7 linked regions of the Homo sapiens genome follow. The protein of the gene in region 1 interacts with the protein of each later gene in a biochemical or structural test. Each region holds a gene or a part of one and is shown on either strand. Other genes may lie near its edges. The genes, in order: IGSF5, PDZRN4, SHANK1, TJP3, CARD11, GIPC2 and GRID2IP.

What was found.
Region 2: the proteins of IGSF5 (region 1) and PDZRN4 interact in a test that uses a peptide from one of them, tested with the Homo sapiens proteins (one large-scale study listed by IntAct).
Region 3: the proteins of IGSF5 (region 1) and SHANK1 interact in a test that uses a peptide from one of them, tested with the Homo sapiens proteins (one large-scale study listed by IntAct).
Region 4: the proteins of IGSF5 (region 1) and TJP3 interact in a test that uses a peptide from one of them, tested with the Homo sapiens proteins (one large-scale study listed by IntAct).
Region 5: the proteins of IGSF5 (region 1) and CARD11 interact in a test that uses a peptide from one of them, tested with the Homo sapiens proteins (one large-scale study listed by IntAct).
Region 6: the proteins of IGSF5 (region 1) and GIPC2 interact in a test that uses a peptide from one of them, tested with the Homo sapiens proteins (one large-scale study listed by IntAct).
Region 7: the proteins of IGSF5 (region 1) and GRID2IP interact in a test that uses a peptide from one of them, tested with the Homo sapiens proteins (one large-scale study listed by IntAct).

Annotation. Positions count from the first base shown.
Region 1 is NC_000021.9:39,751,683-39,755,182, reverse strand, and holds part of IGSF5 (immunoglobulin superfamily member 5), read right to left. Parts: intron 1-3,500. UniProt on the Homo sapiens protein: Provides, together with MAGI1, an adhesion machinery at tight junctions, which may regulate the permeability of kidney glomerulus and small intestinal epithelial cells. Mediates calcium-independent homophilic cell adhesion.
Region 2 is NC_000012.12:41,187,181-41,191,119, reverse strand, and holds the start of PDZRN4 (PDZ domain-containing RING finger protein 4), read right to left. Parts: upstream 2,801-3,939; 5' UTR 2,665-2,800; coding exon 2,017-2,664; intron 1-2,016.
Region 3 is NC_000019.10:50,664,303-50,667,802, forward strand, and holds part of SHANK1 (SH3 and multiple ankyrin repeat domains protein 1), read right to left. Parts: coding exon 1,890-3,500; intron 1-1,889. UniProt on the Homo sapiens protein: Seems to be an adapter protein in the postsynaptic density (PSD) of excitatory synapses that interconnects receptors of the postsynaptic membrane including NMDA-type and metabotropic glutamate receptors via complexes with GKAP/PSD-95 and Homer, respectively, and the actin-based cytoskeleton.
Region 4 is NC_000019.10:3,746,384-3,748,848, forward strand, and holds part of TJP3 (tight junction protein ZO-3), read left to right. Parts: intron 1-101; coding exon 102-312; intron 313-392; coding exon 393-493; intron 494-1,410; coding exon 1,411-1,698; intron 1,699-2,465. UniProt on the Homo sapiens protein: TJP1, TJP2, and TJP3 are closely related scaffolding proteins that link tight junction (TJ) transmembrane proteins such as claudins, junctional adhesion molecules, and occludin to the actin cytoskeleton.
Region 5 is NC_000007.14:2,907,868-2,911,367, reverse strand, and holds part of CARD11 (caspase recruitment domain-containing protein 11), read left to right. Parts: intron 1-1,202; coding exon 1,203-1,318; intron 1,319-3,500. UniProt on the Homo sapiens protein: Adapter protein that plays a key role in adaptive immune response by transducing the activation of NF-kappa-B downstream of T-cell receptor (TCR) and B-cell receptor (BCR) engagement.
Region 6 is NC_000001.11:78,132,966-78,135,954, reverse strand, and holds part of GIPC2 (PDZ domain-containing protein GIPC2), read right to left. Parts: intron 907-2,989; exon of another isoform or gene 774-906; intron 364-773; coding exon 212-363; 3' UTR 1-211.
Region 7 is NC_000007.14:6,541,462-6,544,961, forward strand, and holds part of GRID2IP (delphilin), read right to left. Parts: intron 1-3,500.

The sequences.
Region 1 (3,500 bases):
ACCAAAAGCAGTCACTGCCAAGTGTGAACCCAGTGTTACAGAAAACGACACAGCAATAGATTAAGGTCTGTTAGGAAAGACTTCTAGTCCCCGACAAGCAGGTAGAGTCAGGCAACAGACTAAGAATAGATTGCTTAACTTACTCAACACTCCATTCTGCCAACACCCTCACATGTCATCCACATTTCATCTCTGTATGAAAGAGGAGTCTAGCAGAATCACAGGGCAGGCAGTGCAAAAACACCCTCAGAGCTCCAGGAACCAAGCAGTGAGGCTGCTACAGATATGGATTTGAGAGGGGATAGCATTTGAAGGGTGTATGCAGTTGGAACACTGTCATAAAGCTGATTTCAAGTTTAACTGAAATCAGACAAGCTGCTTTAATTAAAGACATATGCCGGGTATTGTTCATGAATATCCCTATGGGGTAGTCTGAACAGGACTTGAGATTTAACTTGTCTTTCATTTCATTATAGCAGACTTGAATTACCTACACTTAGTTGAAAAATCTTTTATTCTTAAAGTCTTTAGTCTTATTAAACTGTATTAAATAGACAGGATTTAGCCACCCACCAATTCCTCCCTGTCCTGACGAGAGGCAAACACACTCAGAAGATCAGCCAGGACTCACCAAGCTAGTCCTCTCAGAAAGAAAATTGGTGCTTTTGAGATCGCACTCAGCCCCTTATTTTTGGATTATTGGAAATGGCTTGATAATGGAATCTTCAAAAGTGGCAGAAAATGTCATGTTTGGGGCAACGGCAAGAAGCTCAAAAACAAACAACAGGGGGCAAGTGCCTGCTCAAGGTTGGTGGGAAATAGCCATACAGATTCCTCAGCAGAAGCCTTATAAGCCAGAAGGGATTGAAGTCCTATCTTTAGCCTCTTTAAACAAAATGATTGTCAGTCAAGAATCTTATACCCAGCAAAACTAAGCTTCATAAATGAGAGATAAAGTCTTTTTCAGACAAAAAATGCTAAAGGCATTTGCCACTACCAAACCAGCACTACAAGAAATGCTAAAAGGAGTTCTAAATCTTGAAACAGAAGTTTGATATGCACCCAAATAGAACCTGCTTAAAGCATAAATCTCACAGGGTCTATAAAACAATAACACAATTAAAAATAGAAGTATCTAGGTAACAACTAACATGATGAATACAACAGTACCTCACATCTTAATATTGACCTAATGTAAATGGCCTAAATGTTCCACTTAAAAGATTAAAAATGGCAGAATGGACTAAAAAAAAACAAAAAAACACCAACCAAATATCTACTGTCTTCAAGAGATTCAGCTAACACCTAAGCACTCACATAAACTCAAGGTGAAAGGTTGGAGAAAGATATTTCACACAAATGGAAACCAAAAGCAAGCAAAAGTAGCTATTCTTATTTCAGACAAAACAGACTTTAAAGCAACAACAGTTAAAAAAAAAAAGACAAAGAAGGGCATTATATAGTGATAAAAGAATTAATCCAACAAGAAGATATTACAATCCTAAATTTATATGCACCTAACAATGGAGCACCCAGATTTTAAAAACAATTACTACTAGACCTACAATATTAGACAGACAGCAACACAATAATAGTGGGGGACTTCAATACCCCAGTGATAACACTAGACAGATCATCAAGGCAGAAAGTCAACAAAGAAACAATGGACATAAACTATACCCTAGAACAAATGGAACTTACAGATATTTACAGAACATTCTTCCCAACAACTGTAGAGTATAAATCTGGAGGCTTCACATTACCTGACTTCAAATTATACTACAAGGCTATACTTACCAAAACAGCTTGGTACTGGTATAAAAATAGGCACATAGACTAATGGAACAAAATAGAGAACTCAGAAATAAAGCCAAATACTTACAGCCAACTGATCTTCAACCGAGCATACAAAAAAAATAAATTGAGGAGAGGACACCCTATTAAATAAATGATCCTGGGGTAATTGGCAAGCCACACATAGAAGAATGAAACTGGATCCCCATCTCTCACCTTATACAAAAACTAACTCAAGATAGATGAAAGACTTAAATCTATGATCCAAAACTCTAAGAATTCTAGAAAATGGCATCAGAAAAAATGCCTGGACATTAGCTTAGGCAAAGAATTAATGACTAAGACCTCAAAAGCAAATGCAAAAACTAAATAAATAGGACCTAGTTAAACTAAAAAGCTTCTGCACAGCAAAAGAAGTAATCAGCAGAGTAAACACACAACCCACAGAGTGGGGGGAAATATTTGCAAACTATGCCTCCAACAAAGGACTAGTATCCAGAATCTACAAGGAACTAAAACAAATCAGCAAGAAAAAAAAAAGAATAAGTCTATCAAAAAGTGGGCAAAGAACATGAATAGACAATTCTCAAAAGAAGATATACAAACAGCCAACAAACATATGAAAAATACTCAACATCACTAATCAGGGAAGTGCAAGTTAAAACCACAATGAGATGCTGCCTTACTCCTGCAAGAATTATCATAAAAGACAAAGCCATAAATGTTGGTGTGGATGTGGTGAAAGGGAATACTTTTACACTGCTGGGAATGTAAATTATACAACCACTATGAAAAACAGTAGGAGGTTCCTTAAAGAACTAAAAGTAAAACTACCATCTGATCCAGCAATCCCATTACTGGGTATCTACCCAAAGGAAAAGAAGTCGTTACATGAAAAAGACGCTTGCACATGCATGTTTATAGCAGCACAATTGCAATTGCAACAATATGAAACCAACCTAAATGCCCAGCAGCCAATGAGTAGATAAAGAAAATGCGGTATATATACACCATGGACTACTACTTAGTCATAAAAAAAAAGGAATAAAATAACATATTTTGCAGCACCTTGGATGGAGCTGGAGGCCATTATTCTAAGTGAAGTAACTCAGGAATGGAAAACCAAACATCATATGTTCTCACTTATAAGTGGGAGCTAAGCTATGAGGATGCAAAGGCACAAGAATGACACAATGGACTTTGGGGACTCAGGGAGGAACGGGGTGAGGGATAAAAGACTACATATTAGGCACAGTGTACACTGCTCGGGTGACAGGTGCACTAACGTCTCAGAAATCACCATTTAAGAACTTATTCATGTAACCAAAAACCACCAGTACCCCAAAAACTATTGAAATTTTTTAAAAGTAAAGAAAAAAAGAAGAAAGAAATAGCTGTAACAAAAACCACGCAAGGGACTAAGGAGCAACCTGGACACCGCCACGGCTCAATAAAAAGGTGCTGGCATTTCTCCTGCACTCGGAAGACTCCAGCTCTGAGCATCTTGCATTCAGGGTCGGCCTTCTCAGAACCTCCAGAGACTTTGGGAGAATTCTACTTTCCCTAAGGCTTCTCATTAGAGGGTGGAAAAGGCATTTACAAGCTTGTCCAATGAATGGCAGACGTCATGAGTCAGTCCTTTCCAAAAGCCCAGACTTCCCCACTGCACAATATCTCCATGTAACAAAACTGCATTTGTACCCTCG
Region 2 (3,939 bases), on another chromosome or scaffold:
AGGTATCTTTATTTTTCCCTCCATTACAGAAAAGTAAAATATAAATTATCAATAGTGTAAAATTTTTATTTTGTAAAGTCTTAAGGAATTTAAGAAACACTGGAACTATTTATAAATTATAGTCATAACATTCATGTTGCTGTTGTAATGCAGGATCTGTTAGGCTACTGTAGTCCTAATTTTAAATAATATTCCTATTTGGTTTTGCATAATTCCTGCAGAATAAAAAAATAAGGGTTTGTGCTAGGTAAAGTAGTATGTATTTTTTCCTGCTGGCCAAATAATAGTAAAACAAATATGAATTATAGCTACAATGTTTATTAGTAAAGACTAACTTACACATAGGATGAATTAGTGCTGGACTAGGTGGGTTTATTCATGGTTGTAGATGTTATTAACCTTTACTTGGAAACTATTTCTGAATGATAACATTCAGAACATATGCATCATCATCACTGCTATCAGCATCAAGATATTTTCCCAGGAGCTTTTCCCAGGCAATGCGCAGAGCAGCCCCTACTGGTAGTAGAAAAACACTTCTGAGGAACACATAGAAGGTTTTGGCTAGTCTGCAAATCATGGGCAGTTTTTCTCACTTCTCAGAATCATAGCTTGACTTGTTGCATGGACTTTTCTGTAATATTATTCTAGCTGTTCCTCCTTTCCTTCAACCATTGGTTTCCTACGACCTTGAAACCTGGACTGGTAATACAAAGCTTCTATCTGTGCTTTTCCCCGGGTCCTCCCGTTTTGTAAATTTACCTGTATATATGCGTATATGTATATGCATATATGAACTAGAGAAATACTCCTTGAAACCGGTCGTTTAATACACAACGTGCTTCCATTCATCAAGGTAGAAACATTTTAGTCCCTCTCACTTCAATTTTCTCTTTTACGTTCAAGACGGGCGCTTCTAAACTCAGTGCCTGAGTTAGAGGCAGTGTGGAGCAGCCAGTCCCAAATGGGAATCTTTCTGGGTTGCTCCTCCCCGGGAGTGCTGAAGAATGAAAACAGCTCCTTGAATGGTGCGCAAATTCTGCTAAATCCCTGCTCACCATGGCAGCGACCAACAATGTCAGACACTGTGCAGAAGTCCTCCAGGAGAGAAGTAACAGCTTTATAAACAAGCCTCTTCACACGGGATGCTGCAAAGAGGCTTGTTTATTCGGTATGAAAGCCGGCGGGAGGACCAGGAGCGCAGTTCGGGGCCAGCAGCTTAGACAAAGAAGGGAAACAACCGCTGCCTGGGGGCTCGCAGGGCCGGTCTGACCACAGATGGAGGTTCTCGGACTGGACTTCCCAGGTCGCACACACACAATCTCAATCTCTCTCTCTCTCTCCACCAATAATGAGATCCCGAGGCAAGGAAGGCTTATTTAGGGAAAGTCAGAGTGATGAAATGAACTCTGCAAGTCTAAGAAACCCCATCTCTCAACTCCTGAGGCTGTCCTGGCCCCAACGTGCCTCACAGTCCCCAACTTAATAGAAGGCAGTTGATTCAGGCAGTGGCAGCGCAAGTGTCATCAACGCTGACACCAGTCCCAGGTGTGCGTGCGCGGCTGCCAGGGCCGCGGGGATGCTGGTGGCCGCGGGAGAGGAAAGGCTGGGCCGGGAAAGTCTTCGCTTTCTGTCTTTCCTTCTCGGATTTGCTTCAGGCACGGGACAAGTGCTCAAAAAATAGGCAGAGACGGTGGGCAGGAGGGTGAAAGATGGAAAACGAGAGTCTGGATGGAAAATGAGTTTTCACAATTCCTACTTTCCCGGGGGAAAGTTAGAATCGAATCTGTTTAACTCTTTCCAATCGTAATATAATCAGAAAAGGGACAATCCTTAACTTCGACGCCAATCCATTCGTAAGATAATGACAGGAAAGTATGATCAGGGTGTGGATGTTTCCTGCTGCATAGTGAGGAAGGATGCCCAATTCCAAAGGAATCCTGAAGCGTCAGAAAGAACCGCTCCTTTTCCCACCCCAATCGACCATGCCCGCGGTGCCCACCCCCCTTTGCTTACCCTGCGGTGGCCGCCACCGAGGTCGCCGACGAAGTTGCGGACGTGAGCCATGTATTGGGTGAACTTCTCCTGGTACCTGCGCGCCGTGAGCTGCACCTCGCCCTGCAGCGCCCAGAGCTGCGCCAGCAGCGCCTTCTCGCGCCGCCTCCAGGCGAGGACCCGAGGCCCGGGTCCCCGCCCGCGGCCCCAGCGGCCGCCCGGCGGCCCCCCGCGCGCGCCCCCGCCCCGGCCAGCCCTGGGTGTCGGACCGCAGCCCCCCCGCGCGGGCACCTCACCACCGCCCAGCCCCGAAGCGCAGCCCCCGCGGCTGCGGAGCCGGCGGGCAGGGCCGAAGTCGCAGTGCTCGACGTGCGCCTCCAGCTCGTGCAGCCTGACCGAGTGGCCGCAGCCGCGGGCGCGGTAGTCGCACTGGACTCGCAGCTTCTGGATGAGGCTGCGCAGCGGCAGCACCCGGTACAGCTCGCCGGGCGCCAAGGGCTGGCACTGCAGCGGGCACCGGCGCCTCCGCACCGCCCAGGGCAACAGGCAGCTGGCGCAGAAGACGTGCCCGCACGGCGTGCACAGGGGCTCTTCAAGCACCTGGCCGCACAGTTTGCACTCCAGAGCCGGGTCCACGGCTTCTGCGAAGCGCTCCAGGGCAAAGCCCATGTTAGGGATGGGGAAGAAAGGGGGAGCGAAAGCAGAGTCCGTCTTCTCCGAGCCCCCCTGCCTTCCCCGGGCCACCCCCGGGGCAGCCGTCTCGCGGCGGCGGCAGTGGAGGGAGGTGGCGGGTGGGAGGTGTGATCTCACTGTTTGTTTGGCTTGAAGTTTTCAGGCTCCTGCTAGGTCCCCTGATTTCGCCCGTATTGACGCTAATAGAAGTAACCTCCAGAGACCCCCGCCTCCTTCGTTGCCCTGCGATTTATGTTCTTTCAAATTTTGGCCGCCCAGCTTACAATGGTCCTTGGGAACACTGTGTTCTCCTTCGCCTGAACAGTGAACTTCAAGCATCGAGGCGCCTCGCCCTGGGCAGGGCTGCTGATGGGTAAAGCGCTAATGTTGAGAAACAACTTTTAAATTCACCACAATGTAAGCTTCGGGAGAGCAGAATCTTTTTGTCTGTCTGGTTTTCCGCTGAATGCCCATGGCCCGCCCGGCGTCGAGTCTATCTCCAATATGTTTGAAATCGAAGCACTTTTGTTCTTTCACATCAAAACTACAAAATCAGAAGTTAGGAAACTGTGACCTTAGGAAATCACTATAAGGAAAATAACACTAGGAAATCCACAGGGCCAGGCTTCTCAAACCGTGATCCAGAAATCAGGTGAGTTAGAATGGCGCGATCCTTGACCTAGCAGCAAAGATGGGGAAAAAGTCAAGGGCCCGCCTCAGGACACTGCCTTCTTAGGGAGCCCATGAACAGCCATGCAAGGCCTCCTCCCGAGTGAGGAAGCTGGGATTCTGAGTCTGACTCCAGGTTCAGTTGCCACAGCATCCATCTTCTACTTCCACGGGCGTTTTACTACTGGGGACGGGAATGTGATCATTTGGGAACCTGGAAGGGAAAATTAAAGGGAAGGATGATGAAAGAAAGCAGTGAAATAACATATAAATAAAATCTTAGTGGCTGCTTCCTTCTACTTACCCTGAATGAACCCTTTGGATCCAAATTGCCTCCCCTCCTAGTTTGACTCCTCAAATTGTGTAGCATGACAAGCCGTCCTGAAAACACGCAGTAGGGCGTCATTCCAAACCCTTCTTACTCCACTTCCTTTACCATCTTCTGAACCTTAGGAATGCAGAGATCCTGTCACCTGGCTGCATATCACTTACTGCCATTATCCTGAAGCTGCCACCAGATGCTTGGGTGGGTTTTATAAATTAATCATTGATGATTCCTTGCTGCCAGTTGAGCCTTGTTCCTGGAAAGCTTGTAATTCTCTA
Region 3 (3,500 bases), on another chromosome or scaffold:
AGAAATGTAACTCTACTTTCTCTAGGACTAGAAGGTCTTGAATGGGCTCGAATTCTGCGACGATGCAGCTGACTGGCTGCTCTGGGAAGCATCTGCATCATCCCGTATTTCCCCACGTAGAAGTTGCTGGGCTCTTGTTCGAGGCCCCCTCTTCCCCCATCCCATGTTACAACAATGGCACACACTAAATCCTCTCAAAAACTCTTTGGGCTGGCACTAGGCCATTCCACTTCTACAGAGAGGTGGATTCATTTGCCTAAGATCACCCAGGTAGAAAGTGCAGGGTTGGGACTGGAAGCTGAGAAGGTGGGCTCTAGAACCACACCTATAACTGCATCCTGTCTTGAACCACACTGGCTTCAAGGGACTCACAGATTTCAGGGACTGTCAGAAAGAAGTGGCAGCTCACCAAGGAAACAAACATAAGCAGGTCTCACTCCAGTCTCCTTTGTTAATAACTTTTTTTTTTTGAGACGGAGTCTCACTCTGTCACCCAGGCTGGAGCACAGTGGTGCAATCTTGGCTCACTGCAACCTCGGCCTCCCGGGTTCAAGTTATTCTCCTGCCTCAGCCTACTGAGGAGCTAGGACTACAGGTGCCCACCACCATGACCGGCTAATTTTTTGTATTTTTTTTAGTAGAGATGGGGTTTCACCGTGTTAGCCAGGATGGTCTCGATCTTCTGACCTCATGATCCACCCGCCTCAGCCTCCCAAAGTGCTGGGATTACAGGCGTGAACCACCACGCCCAGCCTGTTAATAACTTTTTGTTCATCATGGGATGTAGGTTGTGATGGTGATGGGCAGAGACAACAGAAGCTACTGAAATAAATGGAAATTTAAAGGCTGGACCCAGTGGCTTACACCTGTAATCACACTTTGGGAGGTCAAGGCAGGAGGATCACTTAAGCCCAGGAGTTTGAAACTAGCCTGGTCAACGTAGCTTGTCTCTACAAAAAGTTAAAGAAAAAATGGCCAGGGCCAGGCATGCTGGCTCATGTGTGGAATCTCAGCACTTTGGGAGACCGAGGTGGGATGAATCACCTTAGGTCAGGAGTTCAAGACCAGCCTGGCCCACGTGGCAAAACCCCTCATCTCTACTAAAAATACAAAAATTTGCCGGGCATGGTGGCGGGCACCTGTAATCGCAGCTACTCAGGAGGCTGAGGCTGGAGAATCGTTTGAACCTGGGAGGCAGAAGTTGCAGTGAGCTGAGATTGTACCACTGCACTCCAGCCTGGGCAATAGAGTGAGACTCTGTCTCAAAAAAAAAAAAAAAAAAAAAAAAAAGAAGAAGAAAAGAAAAATTGGCCAGGCATAGTGGCGTGCACCTATAGTCCCAGAGGATTGCTTGAGCCCAGGAGTTTGAGGCTGCAAGTGAGCTATGATTACACCACTGCACTCCAGCCGGGTGACAGAGTGAGACCCTGTTTCTAAAAAAAAAAAAAAAGCCAGGCATGTTGGCTCATGCCTGTAATCCCAGCACTTTGGGAGGCCAAGGCGGATGGATCACCTGAGGTTGGGAGTTCGAGACCAGCCTGACCAACATGGAGAAACCCCATCTCTACTAAAAATACAAAATTAGCTGGGTGTGGTGGCATGGGAGGCTGAGGCAGGAGAATCGCTTGAACCCGGGAGGCAGAGGTTGTGGTGAGCCGAGATCACGCCATTGCACTCCAGCCTGGGCAACAAGAGTGAAACTCCCTCTCAAGAAAAGAAAAGAAAAAAAAAAAAAGAAAAAGAAAATATTTGTGAAAGCATGCTTCTGTGACAGCAAACTCCTGCCAACCTGGTTTCTGTTTCCTTTCTGCCACCCTGAGACCCTAAAGGGACACAGCCATGCCATCAACACCTCTGGCCTCCCTTGTTGGCCACCAGCCCCCGCTTACCTCTGCCGCTGCAGGGAGGAGGTCCTCTCGGGGACATAGCTGGCTCCCCCGTGGTGGCTGTCTCCGCCTCCCCCACTGCCTCCTCGGGCCCAGGGCAGAGCGCCGCCAGCTGCCGAGGAGCCCCCAAACTGCTGAAGCTTGGAGCTGAGTTCACTGATGATGCTGGCTTTTACTGTGGCCAAGGCTGAGGCCTGAGGCTGGGCCAAGGGCCCGGGCAGAGGTGGTGGCGGTGGGCCCGGGCCCTCCTCCCAGGGCAGCAGCTTCCGGGGCAGAGAGGAGGCCGTCGGCAAGGGCACCGGTGGGACTTCTGGCTCTACAGCCACCGGACCCCCCGCCACGCCTGCCGTGGGGGGTCCTGAACAAGCACGCAGGGCCAGCAGCCCATCGGTTCCAGCCCCTGTCACCGAGACGGTGGGGCTGGTGGGGGTAACAGGGTCTCGGAGTCCCCCGCTGGGGCCAGGCCGCAGGCCTCCGCTGGCTCCTAGCGCCCGGCCCCGGAGCTTAGAGGGAGTCATGAGCTGAGGAGGGTATGGCGGGCCGGGAGTACTGCTGCCCCCAAAGGCCTGGCCGTCCAGGTAGGCCACATAGGTGTCCAGAAGCTCCGGCCCACTGGCCACACCGGCCCCAGCCCCGCCCCCACCCCCTGCGCTGCCACCACCTTCGGCAGATAGGCTGCTCAGCGTGGAGGCGCTGCTGATGGTCTCCAGTGGGTGGTCACTGCTGCTCCGACTGTCCACCTCCTCGATGCCAGAATCCGTGCCAGGCGGAGGGTCCGGGCCAGGCTGTGGGGCAGCGGGAGCCGGTGCTGCTGGGGCAGGCGGGCCTGGTGGATGGGGGTCCCCAGGAGCGGCGGAGGCCCCCTGGGTCAGGGTGGCCACCTCGCTGTCATAGGATGTCAGGCTGGATGCGGTGGAGTCCAGGGTGGGAGGGGCTGCGGCCACAGCCGGGGGTGGCACAGGGGGTAACGGGGTGGCAGGGGCAGGTGTGTCGGGCAGCGGGTGGGGAGGCCCAGGCGTGAGGGGCGACTCTGGCTTTTCGAAGCTGTTGGAGAATTCCAGAGGCGGAGGCAGCGGTTCCACGAAAAGGAATTCGCCATCTTCCACATCCACCGAGGGGGCGGGAGGCGGCAGGACCAGCAGGGGCAGCCCGTTCTCTTCGCTGGCCCTCGGGGAGGTCGGGGAGGGGGGCACGGACCGGCGTGGGCTGGGCGGCGGGACCCCCGGCCCGTCCTCCGAGGGGGGACCCCTTCCGCTCGTCACAGGGGCCCGGGGCTGGCAGTTTTCAAGGAACCGCACGTGCAGCGGCAGCCGCTCGGGTTCTTCGGGGGCTGCGGACCTCCAGGGCTTGCTTACTCCGGGGTGCGGGGCCGGGGGCTCCGTCCCCAGCTGCAGCAGGAGGGGCCCCACCCCGGGAGCGGTGGGCGGCAGGCGGTGTAGCAGGGAACGCCGGGCGGCGGGCGGGCTGGCGGGAAGGGACTTCTCCTGGCTGCCCAGCCCGGCCCTGTACCCCAGCTCCCGGCGCGCAGGGTCCGGCGGGGAGGCCCCCCAGAGACGCAGCACTGGCTCGTGGTGGGCGTGGGGCGAGTGGTGGTGCGGGGTGGGCGGCGGGGCC
Region 4 (2,465 bases), on another chromosome or scaffold:
TGGGGTCCACTCTGACCTCAGACTCTTCATCTTTCTATCTTTCTCTCTCTGTTTACCCTGCTGCAATCCCCCTCACCCCAACGTCCGCCGGCCTGGCCCAGGACAAGCATGCGCTCCTGGATGTGACCCCCTCCGCCATCGAGCGCCTCAACTATGTGCAGTACTACCCCATTGTGGTCTTCTTCATCCCCGAGAGCCGGCCGGCCCTCAAGGCACTGCGCCAGTGGCTGGCGCCTGCCTCCCGCCGCAGCACCCGTCGCCTCTACGCACAAGCCCAGAAGCTGCGAAAACACAGCAGCCACCTCTTCACAGGTTGGGGGGTGGGTGTCCCAGGGTAGGCGGGTGGGCCCCAGCCTGAGTCTCCTGCACACACTGACGTCCCCTCCCTGCAGCCACCATCCCTCTGAATGGCACGAGTGACACCTGGTACCAGGAGCTCAAGGCCATCATTCGAGAGCAGCAGACGCGGCCCATCTGGACGGCGGAAGATCAGGTACTGCCGCGGTGTGGGTGGGTCGGGCAGGGAGGCCCCACAGACGCTGTGCAGGCCCAGCTGGGGTTTGGGGCCTCTGTCGGGAGTTAGGGCTTGGTCAGGGATCAGGACTGTGGCCAGAGTCAAGATGGGACCTGAGACAAGGGTGTTGGACTGGAACTTGGGTGAGATGAGATTGGAGGAGCTGTTTTTTGTTGTTTGATTTGAGATGGAGTCTCATGTCACCCAGGCTGGAGTACAGTGGTGTGATCTCAGCTTGCTGCAACCTCCGCCTCCCGGGTTCAAGTGATTCTCCTGCCTCAGCCTCCCGAGTAGCTGGGACTACAGGCGAGCGCTACCAGGCCCAGCTAATTTTTGTATTTTTAGCAGAGACGAGGTTTCACCATGTTGGCCAGGCTGGGCTCAAACTCCTGACCTCAGGCGATCCACCTGCCTCAGCTTCCCAAAGTGCTGGGATTACAGGCCTGAGCCACCGCGCCCAGCCTGGAGGAGCTGTTTTGAGAATGGAGTCAGTGGGGCACGGGAGCTCACGCCCATGGTCCCAGCTACTCAGGAGGCTGAGGCAGGAGAATCACTTGAACCCGGGAGGCAGAGGTTGCAGTGAGCAGAGATTGCGCCACAGCACTCCAGCCTGGCAACAGAGACTCCTTCTCATAAAAAAGAGAGAGAGAATGGAGTCTTCTCTTGGGGCTGGAGTCAAGGTTTGGGGCTCAGCTTGGATTTGGGGGCTGAGCCTCTCAGGTGAAGGGTCAATGGATACAACCCATCCTGGAGTCAACAGAGAAGCCTCCACTGAGGCTCCAGGCTCCAGGCTCCTCGCCTTGATTTGGGACCAGAGTTTGAAGGTGGGGGGATGTCGTGGGTGGCAGCTGGGGTCCTGGCCAGGGCCAGCCGCAGCATCCACACCCACCCCACAGCTGGATGGCTCCTTGGAGGACAACCTAGACCTCCCTCACCACGGCCTGGCCGACAGCTCCGCTGACCTCAGCTGCGACAGCCGCGTTAACAGCGACTACGAGACGGACGGCGAGGGCGGCGCGTACACGGATGGCGAGGGCTACACAGACGGCGAGGGGGGGCCCTACACGGATGTGGATGATGAGCCCCCGGCTCCAGCCCTGGCCCGGTCCTCGGAGCCCGTGCAGGCAGATGAGTCCCAGAGCCCGAGGGATCGTGGGAGAATCTCGGCTCATCAGGGGGCCCAGGTGCGTCGGACATGGGGGGCAGGCCTGGGAAGGGTCTCCGGAGGGGATGCCAGCACAGAGCAGACACACACTGGGAGCCTGTTTTCTACCAGGACGTCAACAAACACGGCTTCCCTGGTCAGACTGGTTTCTGGGACTCAGACCTGGGGTAGCTGAGACCCACGTGGCACTGAGTAACTTGCAGCATTTTTTTTTTTTTTTTTTTTTTGAGACGCAGTCTTGCTCTGTCGCCTAGGCTGGAGTGCAATGGCGCAATCTTGGCTCACTGCAACCTCCACCTCCCAGGTTCAAGCGATTCTCCTGCCTCAGCCTCCTGAGTAGTTGGGATTACAGGCACCTGCCACCATGCCCGGCTAATTTTTGTATTTTTAGTAGAGACGGGGTTTCACCATTGGTCAGGCTGGTCTTGAACTCCTGACCTTGTAATCCACCCGCCTTGGCCTCCCAAAGTGCTGGGATTACAGGCATGAGCCACTGCACCCAGGCTTTTTTTTTTTTTTTTTTGAGATGGAGTTTCGCTTTTGTTGCCCAGGCTGGAGTGCGATGGCGTGATCTCGGCTCACCACAACCTCCGCCTCCCAGGTTCAAACGATTCTCCTGTCTCAGCCTCCTGAGTAGCTAGGATTACAGGCGTGCACCACCATGCCTGGCTGATTTTGTATTTTTAGTACAGACAGGGTTTCTCCATGTTGGTCAGGCTGGTCTGGAACTCCAGCCTCGGCCTCCCAAAGTGCTGGGATTACAGGTGTGAGCCACTGCACCCGGCC
Region 5 (3,500 bases), on another chromosome or scaffold:
CAAGGAGACCCTGGGCGAGGGGGGTCATTCCCACCTCCAGACACGAGTGCTAGACTGCGTTCAGTTTGTGAAATTCACTGAGCTGCATGCTTAGAATGCTGTGTTTATGTTCTATTCCAATGCAAAGTTTGATGTTTTATTTATTTAGAGACTGGGGCTCGCTCTGTTGCCCAGCCTGGAGTGCAGGGCATGATCCCGGCTTACTGCAGCCGCGACTTCTAGGCTGAAGCAACTCTCCCGCCTCTGCCTCCCGAGTAGCTGGGACTACAGTTACTCACCACCATGCCCAGCTAATGATTTTCTAATTTTTTTAGAGATAGGGTCTTGTTATATTGCCCAGGCTGGTCTCGAACTCCTAGCGTCAAGCAATCCTCCCACCTCCCAAAGTGCTGGGATTGCTGGCATGAGCCACCATGCCAACATTTGGTGGAATTTTTTTTTAAGTGATGCCTTCAGCAAAGCAGAAATTGCCCTTTCTCAAAATGATGAGCTCATGGTTGAGAACCTTGCAGATACTCCTGGGACCTGCCAGCCTCGCCGCCTCACCCTTCATGTGTTCCCTACCCTCTTACTTGAAGGCTGGCTAGGGTAGCAGGTGTTTTGGGGTGTGTGTGTGTGTGCGTGTGTGTGTATGTGTGTGTGTGTGTGTTTGAGACAGTGTCTCACTCTGTCACCCAGGCTGGAATGCAGTGGCACCATCTCGGCTCACCGCAACCTCCACCTCCCGGGTTCAAGTGATTCTCCTGCCTCAGCCTCCCGAGTAGCTGGGATTACAGGCGTGGGCCACCGCACCCAGCTAATTTTTATACTTTTAGTAGAGACAGGGTTTTGCCGTGTTGGCCAGGCTGGTCTCGAACTCCTGACCCCAAGTGATCGGCCCGCCTGGGCCTCCCAAAGTGCTGGGATTACAGGCGTGAGCCACCACGCCCGGCTGGTAGCAGGTGTTTCATTCAAACTCATTCACGCCACCTGGTTCACCCCGTCCGGGGCCTCATCTCTGCCCATGAACATCACTGTGGTCAGCAGAGTCCTGGAGTGTCCAGACTCATGTGGGGGTCTCATCTCCTGGATCAGCGGCAGGTGGCTTTCAGGGCTCCCGCCCCGCTATAGACCCCAACCCTGCATCCAGGCCCCGCTGCAGGCACCTTCACAGGAGCGGGAGGTGGGTGGGCTGCTGCTGACCAAAGCCGCTGTGCCCGCAGAACAAGCACTGCCTGCTGGAGGCTGGGATCGGCTGCACAAGAGACTTGATCAAGTCCAACATCTACCCCATCGTGCTCTTCATCCGGGTGTGTGAGAAGAACATCAAGAGGTTCAGGTAGGGCTCCCAGACCCCTAAGGGCTGTCCCCTCCTGTCCCTAGCACCCCACCAAGCCTCCATGGATCGCAGGAGGCCTGTGTGCCCCCACCTCATGCACCCCTTTTGTAAACCCTCACCAAGTACGGGACTGACCTTGCAGAGCTGATGCCAAGGACAGCGGCCGAGATGGTGACTCACATATGGGGCGCATCCCAGGGGACAAGAGCTGGGAGGGACGGGGCGGAGTGCCCATCACCCAGGGTGGTCCGGGAAGGCCTGGGGTATCCATCAGCGAGACCCATGGCAGTGAGGGGGGCCTAGGAGATGAGAAAGAAGACGCAATCTGGGCAGCAGGGGAACAGCTGGTGCTCAGACCCTGAGACAGATGTTTGGGCGGAATGGTGAGGGACGGAGGGGTGAGGGGCGGAGTGGTGAGGGACAGAGGGGTGAGAGGCTGAGGAGTGAGGGGCGGAGGGTGAGGGACGGAGAGTGAGAGGCTGAGGGGTGAGGGGCGCAGGGGTGAGAGGCAGAGGGTGAGGGGTGGAGGGGTGAGGGGCGCAGGGGTGAGGGGCGGAGGGGTGAGAGGCTGGGGAGTGAGGGGCAGAGGGTGAGGGACAGAGGGGTGAGAGGCTGAGGAGTGAGGGGCGGAGGGTGAGGGACGGAGAGTGAGAGGCTGAGGGGTGAGGGGCAGCGGGTCCAGGCCATGCAGGGCCACGGGAGGCTGCGACATCTTGTTCTGGGTGCATCTGGAGGCCACTGAAGGTGGCATGGTCCACTTTAGGGTATAAACGCACCTCTCACCTCTGGACACGGGCAGGGTGGCGGTGTGGGCCGGGCTTCTGTCTGAGAGGCGATGAGAGGCAGTCTGACTCCGAATCCGTGTTCAGGGTCGAGCCTGCAGGATTCGGGAAAGGGTTCACTCTGGGGTTCCAGAGAACCAGAGGCTGGGCGCGGTGGCTCACGCCTATAATCCCCACACTTTGGGAGGCCAAGGTGGGCACATCAGCTGAAGTTGGTAGTTTGAGACCAGCTTGGCCAACATGGTGAAACCCCATCTCTACTAAAAATACAAAAAAAATTAGCTGGGCGTGGTGGCGGGCACCTGTAGTCCCAGCTACTCAGGAGGCAGAAGCAGGAGAATCGCTTGAACGTGGGAGGGGCAGGTTGCAGTGAGCTGAGATCGAGCCACTGCACTCCAGCCTGGGCGACAGAGTGAGACTCCATCTCAGAAAAAAAAAAACAAAAAAAAAAAAACGAAAGGACGGCGCTGAGGTTTGGGGCCTGGGTGATGAGGACAGACTGGCCCTTAAGTGGCTTCATCTCGGATCCCCGCCCCTCCTCGCACGCACCTGCAAAATAAATGTCCTGCCACCATTTTGCAGAGGGAATCACAGACTGAGAGTTTAGGCCCATTCATTCCTTTTCACCAGATACTCACTGAGCCATTGTGAAGGGTTAGGCTCTGGGGAACGCAGCAGTGAGCAAAAGAGACGGGCATCCCCCTCGATACCTCACACCCGTTAGGCTGGCCAGGACCAAAAGGACAGAAACTGACAAGTGTTGACGAGGAGGGTAGACGTCGGAACCCGGTGCACAGCTGCTGGAAATGCAAAAGAGAGCGGCCACTGTGGAGGACAGCATGGCGATGCCCCCAAAAATTAAAAATAGAATACTATATAATCCAGCAACCCCACCTGCGGGCATATCCCCAAGAGAATTGAGAGCAGGGTCTGTAAGAGACATATACACGCCCGTGTTCACAGCAGCGTTACTCCCAATAGCCAAAACGTAGACGTCACCTAAGGGTCGGTCTGTGGGGAGTGAATACACACAATAGGGCCCATCCATACAGGCTAGGAAGGTGGCAAGAGCTGAAAACCTTGCAAACTGTTAACAAAAAAAGAGTTGAAACAAAGAAACAATAATACATTTAATGCATGAGAAATACTAGCATGGTACATACCCCCTTCCCTGATCTGTCCTGCCTGGGAATGTGTTTATGGTGCAGTGTGTATCACAACAAAAATACTGTATGGAGTATTTTTTTTTTTTTGAGACGGAGTCTCACTCTGTCACCCAGGCTGAAGTGCAGTGGCACGATCTCGGCTCACTGCAGCCTCCACCTCCCAGGTTCAAGAGATTCTCCTACCTCAGCCTCCCGAGTAGCTGGGATTACAGGTGCCCACCACCATGCCTGGCT
Region 6 (2,989 bases), on another chromosome or scaffold:
TTAGGTCATTTCTCTTAAGCATACTACATCAGCAATGTTAAAAAGTGCCCAGAAATCAAAATTACCAAAATTATATTTCAAAGAATATATTCCATACACATGAAATTAAACCAGAGTTAGTAAAGGTGTCCAAAAACAGATCTTATAGGACTTTTTAAAAAAGAGAAAAAAAAGAACGATGGGTTGTTTCTTCAGAGATGGAGTGTACACATCATAATCCTCTTCGTTTGGCATCACCAATGACTCCCCAAACATCAAAGACAAATTCGTCTGGGAACGCAAAGTCTCCAAGAGTTTCGTCAAGTGCCACAGCAAATTCATCTGGATTTACTTTGTCCTTTCCAGCTTCAAACATTGTGGTGGCTATCAAAAATAATATTAAAAAATTAACAATAAATGAAATAGCATCAAAGGACTGAGAAAAATGGCAACAGGAAAATTACTTGCTAAAAGTAACATGCATAAATATATTTCAAATTAAATGCAAAATTAAATGCAAATTAAAACAGTAAGATACCCTCTCTCACACACACACATCAAGGTGGCAAAGATACTTTTCAACAATGTGTCCACTGAACCCAGGTTTGCAGCTGCCACCCTTGCCCCCTACCCAACCTTGGAGCCCATCAGTTGGGAACCTCTGGCATTCCCATGGGTAGAACAAGATCCCCTGAAAGAAACCCTGTGGCTGTGACTAACCCTAGCAGGAAACTTAAAGAACACCCCTTCCCCAACCTCCTAATAGTCACTACTCTCCCTCCCTCCTCCACCAGTCCCCCACTGCCAACTGAGATGGAGTCCAGTCCTCCCTGCCCAAAGACAAAAAGACAAAGGATGACAGCTTGCACTGGAGCAGTCAAGCTGGGGAGAAGCAGAGGAAGACATCTGTCTACCTGTGGAATCAAGGTACCTTTTCTGAGCCCCTCTCCAGTTTGGGATAGAACATGAAAGTGGCGGCCTTGTTCAGTTTTTCTACTAAGTTGCCTGGGTTCCATATTCTATGTCTTGGAACCAGCATCTTCAGGAGTACTTAGGACTTGCCCCAGCTGTCTGGGAGCCCAAGAGGCTCAGTGGATTTCCACTCAGCACCCTAGAAGCACCAGCAACCAGAAAGAGATGGTGTATATGTGATGTGGGACTTGGGTGAAAAACCTCCATGTGAAAGGGAAACGCCAAAGCCCCAGGGAAAAGCTCCAGCATCTCCTTTCCTTCCAGGTTAAGGATGAACTAATCCAAGTTTGTATGACTTCTCTGAACGAGCCACAAGGTCTAGAGAGATAAAAGCTATGCCTCTTCCCATCAGTTCAGTCCTAACACAAGGCAGGCTAGGAAGAAAAGGGAGAGATGTGGCCTACAGAAGAGCACCAGGATCAGAGCAGAAGTAGGGTGGGGGTGCAGTGAACTAGTAGAGGGATCAAACCTCTAGTAAGGTAAGGAGGGCTTCTATATGGCCAGGCAGCCTGGCATGGGGTGGGAGAGTACAGATGTGGTGAGGATGGCATGGGAATGGGGAGGGAGGGCAGCAGCCACGGTGATAAGAGATTAGTTACACATATGGAGATGGATCACATACATACACACACACATACATACACACACACACACACACATACATACACACATACACAGACACATACATACAGAACAACAGGAATCAAGTTTGTCACTGCCAGAAAAGGATAAATAGGGAAAGGGAGAAAATAAGAATGAACCCTATGGAATTAGAATTGTAGATATCACTGGAAATATATATATATCTCCAATTGAGGTGTTATAAAAATACAGACATAAATGCATACATGCATGTGTATACACATTCCTCAGTCCTGGAAGCATGACATCCCAACTACAATGAGTACACAAAGCACCGAAATCTTGGTTCTTAAATACCATTCTCCATTAGAAAGACTAAGACTTCCTCAGAAAAATGGCAGATTCCAGGGCTAGAGCAGGCAAAGTGCAATATGAACCAAGACTATCTTGTACCAGAAAGTAAGAAAGTGTCACAAAATGATGGGAACATGTGAAAAGGATATAGATGTCAGAGTGCAAGAGTTCACACTGACCAAATCAGGGATAATTTAAATATCCAAATAAGTAATGATGGTAATATATTATAACTCCAGTGAATAGAACAGGAAGCCATGAATCCATAATACATACATACACACACACACACACACACACACACACACACACACACAATTTTTTTTTCCTTGTGTAACCAATGTTTATCTTTAAAACTAAACCCTAGTGGCAGTCTAATCTACAGAACCCTTGGTTCTCACTACACTACACTACATTAATGCTGTACCCTCATAAATCTGACCACTCAAAATGCTATCTTCGCTGCTTTCTGCCTTTGCCCAGGATAACCTCCTCCTAGCCACCAGCACCACCATCAAAATCCTTCTCTCCTTCAAGGCTCTCTCCTCCATGAAATCCTTTGTCCACAGCTGGAAGAGATATCCCCATTCTCTAAACCCTTCTGCCAGTGTTTTTCATGCTTAAATGCACAAACAAATCACCTAGGATCTTGGCAAAATGGAGATTTTGGTTCAGTAGTTCTGCAGCCCTGAGATTCTGCATTTTCAACTCCCAGGTGATGCTGGTCCTCAGGAAACACTTTCAATAAAAAGGTCTTAGACTGCAAATTCAACATTGCTCTGCACTGACATTTATTTTTCTGTGTATTTTTTTCTCTCCTACTAAAAGAATAAACTCCCAACAGATCTTGAGTAGCTTACTCAGTCTTTTATGCCCGTAGTAACTAATTCAGTGTCTCATGCATAATAAATGCTAGTGAATGGGTGGTGCAAGAGGAGGGTGTGTAATTACACTTACATACTTTTTGCACAGGCACAGTTAGCATGCACTGGGGAAAGTGAAGTCCAGAACTCTGGTCTCATAGCCAGGATGTAAAAGAAGAGTAGCCAGAATGTTAAGGTGAAGTACTGCTGAAGTAGAACTCCAGTTCAGAATTTTGCTT
Region 7 (3,500 bases), on another chromosome or scaffold:
CCTGAATTTTGACTCCCTCAGTTCTCTCTCCAAACTTTTGTCTTTGTCCACAAACCAGCTGATACTAATCAAGGCACATCTGCACACAGGAGTGTGTGGCCATTGGAAATGAGCGTGCAAATGGACACGTTGGAAACGTGTGCAAATGATCACGTTGGAAAGGAGCATGCAAATAGACATGGTGGAAACGAGCGTGCAAATGCACACGTTGGAAACGAGTGTGCAAATGGGCACATTGGAAATGAGCATGCAAATGGTCATGTTGGAAATGAGCATGCAAATGGTCACGTTTCTGGAAGGCAGGTTGTTAAGTGTGTCCAAAGCCCATCCTTCTACCCAATGATCTCACATGTAGGAATTTATCTTACACACATCCTGACAAGACACATGCACGATGATGTATGAGTGAGGTGGTTCACCTGTGTATTATTTCTAACACTAAGACGTTGGCAGCAATATAAATATCTGACAGTGGGGGCTAAATAATTGCAGTACATCCATGTGGGAGATATTTGTAGTTTCTTGGCTATCTAGGCCAAAAACAAAGAGGAAAATCTCAGCCAGGCGCGGTGGCTCACACCTGTAATCCCAGCACTTTGGGAGGCCAAGGGGGGCGGATCATCTGAGGTCAGGTGTTTGAGACCAGCCTGGCCAACATGGTGAAACCCCGTCTCTACTAAAAATACAAAAATTAGCCAGACGTGGTGGTGGGTGCCTTTATTCATCCCAGCTACTCGGGAGGCTGAGGCAGGAGAATCGCTTGAACCCAGGAGTCGGAGGTTGCAGTGAGTCGAGATCTTGCCATTGTACTCCAGCCTAGGCAACAAGAGCAAAAACTCCATCTCAAAAAAAAAAAAAAAAAAAAGAAAAAAGAAAATCCCAAAGTAGGTGGGAGGCAAGATCCTGGCAGGGCTGGGGGCAATGGTTCACACCTGTAATCCCAGTGCTTAGGGAGATCGAGGCAGGAGGATTGTTTGAGACCAGGAATTCAAGACCATCCTGGGCAACATAGCATGACCCCATTTCTACAAACAAATTTTTTTTAAATTAGCCAGATGTGGTGGTGCATGCCTGTAGTCTCAGCTACTTGTGAGGCTGAAGTGAGAGGATCACTTGAGCTCAGGAAGTTGAGGCTGCAGTGAGCCAAGATTGTGCCACTGCACTATACAGTCTGGGCAACAGATCAAGACCCCATTTCAATAAATAAATAAGAAAATAAAACCATGAAATAGGGAGTGATGGCTAAGGAGTGCAGAATTTCTTGTTAGAGTGATGAAATTGTTTGAAAATGGATGGTAGTGATGGGTGTTACAATCCTGTGAATATATTAAAAACCATCGAATTGCCCACATGTCATACAGTTTAGCCACTGAAAGCACATACTCCATGAGACCCTTCCCTTGTTGGCTGAGGGTCTGGTTGTCTCTGGGCACTGACAGCTGGAGCTGACCCTGAAGCAAGGCTGGGCGGCTGAGTGAGTCCATGAGTCGTTCACGTCTCCCTCTCTCGAGGACTTGTGGGTGCAACTTCAGCCTGAACTGGGGCTGTCAGGCCCCGCCTCTCTCACCCTCATCCACCTCCAAACTTCTCAACAGACTCCGCATCCTTCCCTTCCATCCTCTGCTCTCAGAGGTTGAAGAGGCCCACTTCCGGCCGGGTGCGGTGGCTCACGGCTGTCATCCCAGCACTTTGGGAGGCGAAGGTGGGTGGATCATCTGAAGTTAGGAGTTCGAGACCAGCCTGGCCAACATGGTGAAACCCCATCTCTACTACAAATACAAAAATTAGCTGAGCATCTGATGGCAAACGCCTGTAATCCCAGTTACTCGGGAGGCTGAGGCAGGAGAATTGCTTGAGCCTGGGAGGCGGAGGTTGCAGTGAGCCAAGATCGTGCCACTGCACTCCAGCCTGGTGACAGAGCGAGGCTCTGTCTCAAAAAAAAAAAAAGCCCCCTTTGTAGTCAAGGCCAAATCACCAGGCCACAGACACCTCACCATTCCCAGTCTCCACCCCTTTCTTCCTGCCACCTACTTGTCATTCAGCTTTCAGCTCAAAGATCATCTCATCAGGCAGCCTTTCCTGGCCACCCTGTCAAAGTGGGTTGCGTCACTCTCACCTCACCCTATTTATGCCTCCACTTTATTCATCATCATCTTTTTTTTTCTGGAGTCAGGGTCTTGCTCTGTTGCCCAGGCTGGAGTGCAGTGGTGCAATCATAGCTCCCTGTGGCCTTGAACTCCTGTGTTCAAGCGATCCTCCCACCTCTGCCTTCCGAGTAGCCAGGATCACAGGTGCACGCCACTGTGCTTGGCTAATTTAATTTAATTTTATTATTATTATTATTATTTGAGAGAAAGTCTCACTCTGTCGCTCACTCTGTCGCTCTGTGCAGTGGTGGGATCTTGGCTCACTGCAACCTCCACCTCCTGAGTTCAAGCAGTTCTCCTGACTCAGCCTCCCAAGTAGCTGGGATTATAGGCAAATGCCACCACGCCCGGCTCATTTTGGTAATTTTTGTAGAGATGGGGTTTCACCATGTTGGCCAGGCTGGTCTCAAACTCCTGACCTCAGGTGATCCTCCCACCTCGGCCTCCCAAAGTGTTGGAATTACACGTCTGAGCCATCGTGCCTGGCCTGTCATGATCTTTAATAGCTTGTGTATTGATTAATCCACTTGCTTACTGTCTCTTTCCCTGCAGTAATGTTAGGTGTGTGAAGTCAGGCTCCTTGCCTGTGTTGTTCATGGCTGTTTCCCCTGTCCTGCACATCATAGGCCCATGATCAATGACTGGTAAATGCATGGTTTTCTTTTTCTTTTTTCTTTCTGTTTTTTTTGAGATGGAGTGTCACTCTTATTGCCCAGGCTGGAGTGCAATGGCATGATCTCGGCTCATTGCAACCTCTGCCTCCCGGGTTCAAGCGACGCTCCTGCCTCACCCTCCTGAGTAGCTGGGATTACAGGCACCCGCCACCACAACCAGCTAATGTTTTGTGTTTTTAGTAGAGACAGGGTTTCTCCATGTTGGCCAGGCAGTCTCGAGCTCCTGACCTCAGGTGATCCACCCGCCTCAGCCTCCCAATGTGCTGGGTTTACAGGTGTGAGCCACTGTGCCCGGCCTGCATGGTTTTCAGTATATCTACTTCTCCATTCCCTGCAGCTTATATAAATGTTCAAGTCTCTCTCAGGCTATAAATAAATAAATAACAAGCTGGGCACAGCAGCTCATGCCTATAATCCCAGAGCTTTGGGAGGACAAGGCGGGAGGATCACTTGAGGCCAGGAGTTGGAGACCAGCCTGGGCAACATAACCAGACCCTGTCTCTAAAAAATGAAAGACAGCCGGGCGCGGTGGCTCATGCCTGTAATCCCAGCACTTTGGGAGGCCGAGGCAGGCGGATCACAAGGTCAGGAGATCGAGACCATCCCAACTGACACGGTGAAACCCCGTCTCTACTAAAAATAGAAAAAAAATTAGCCAGGTGGGCGTGATGGCGGGCGC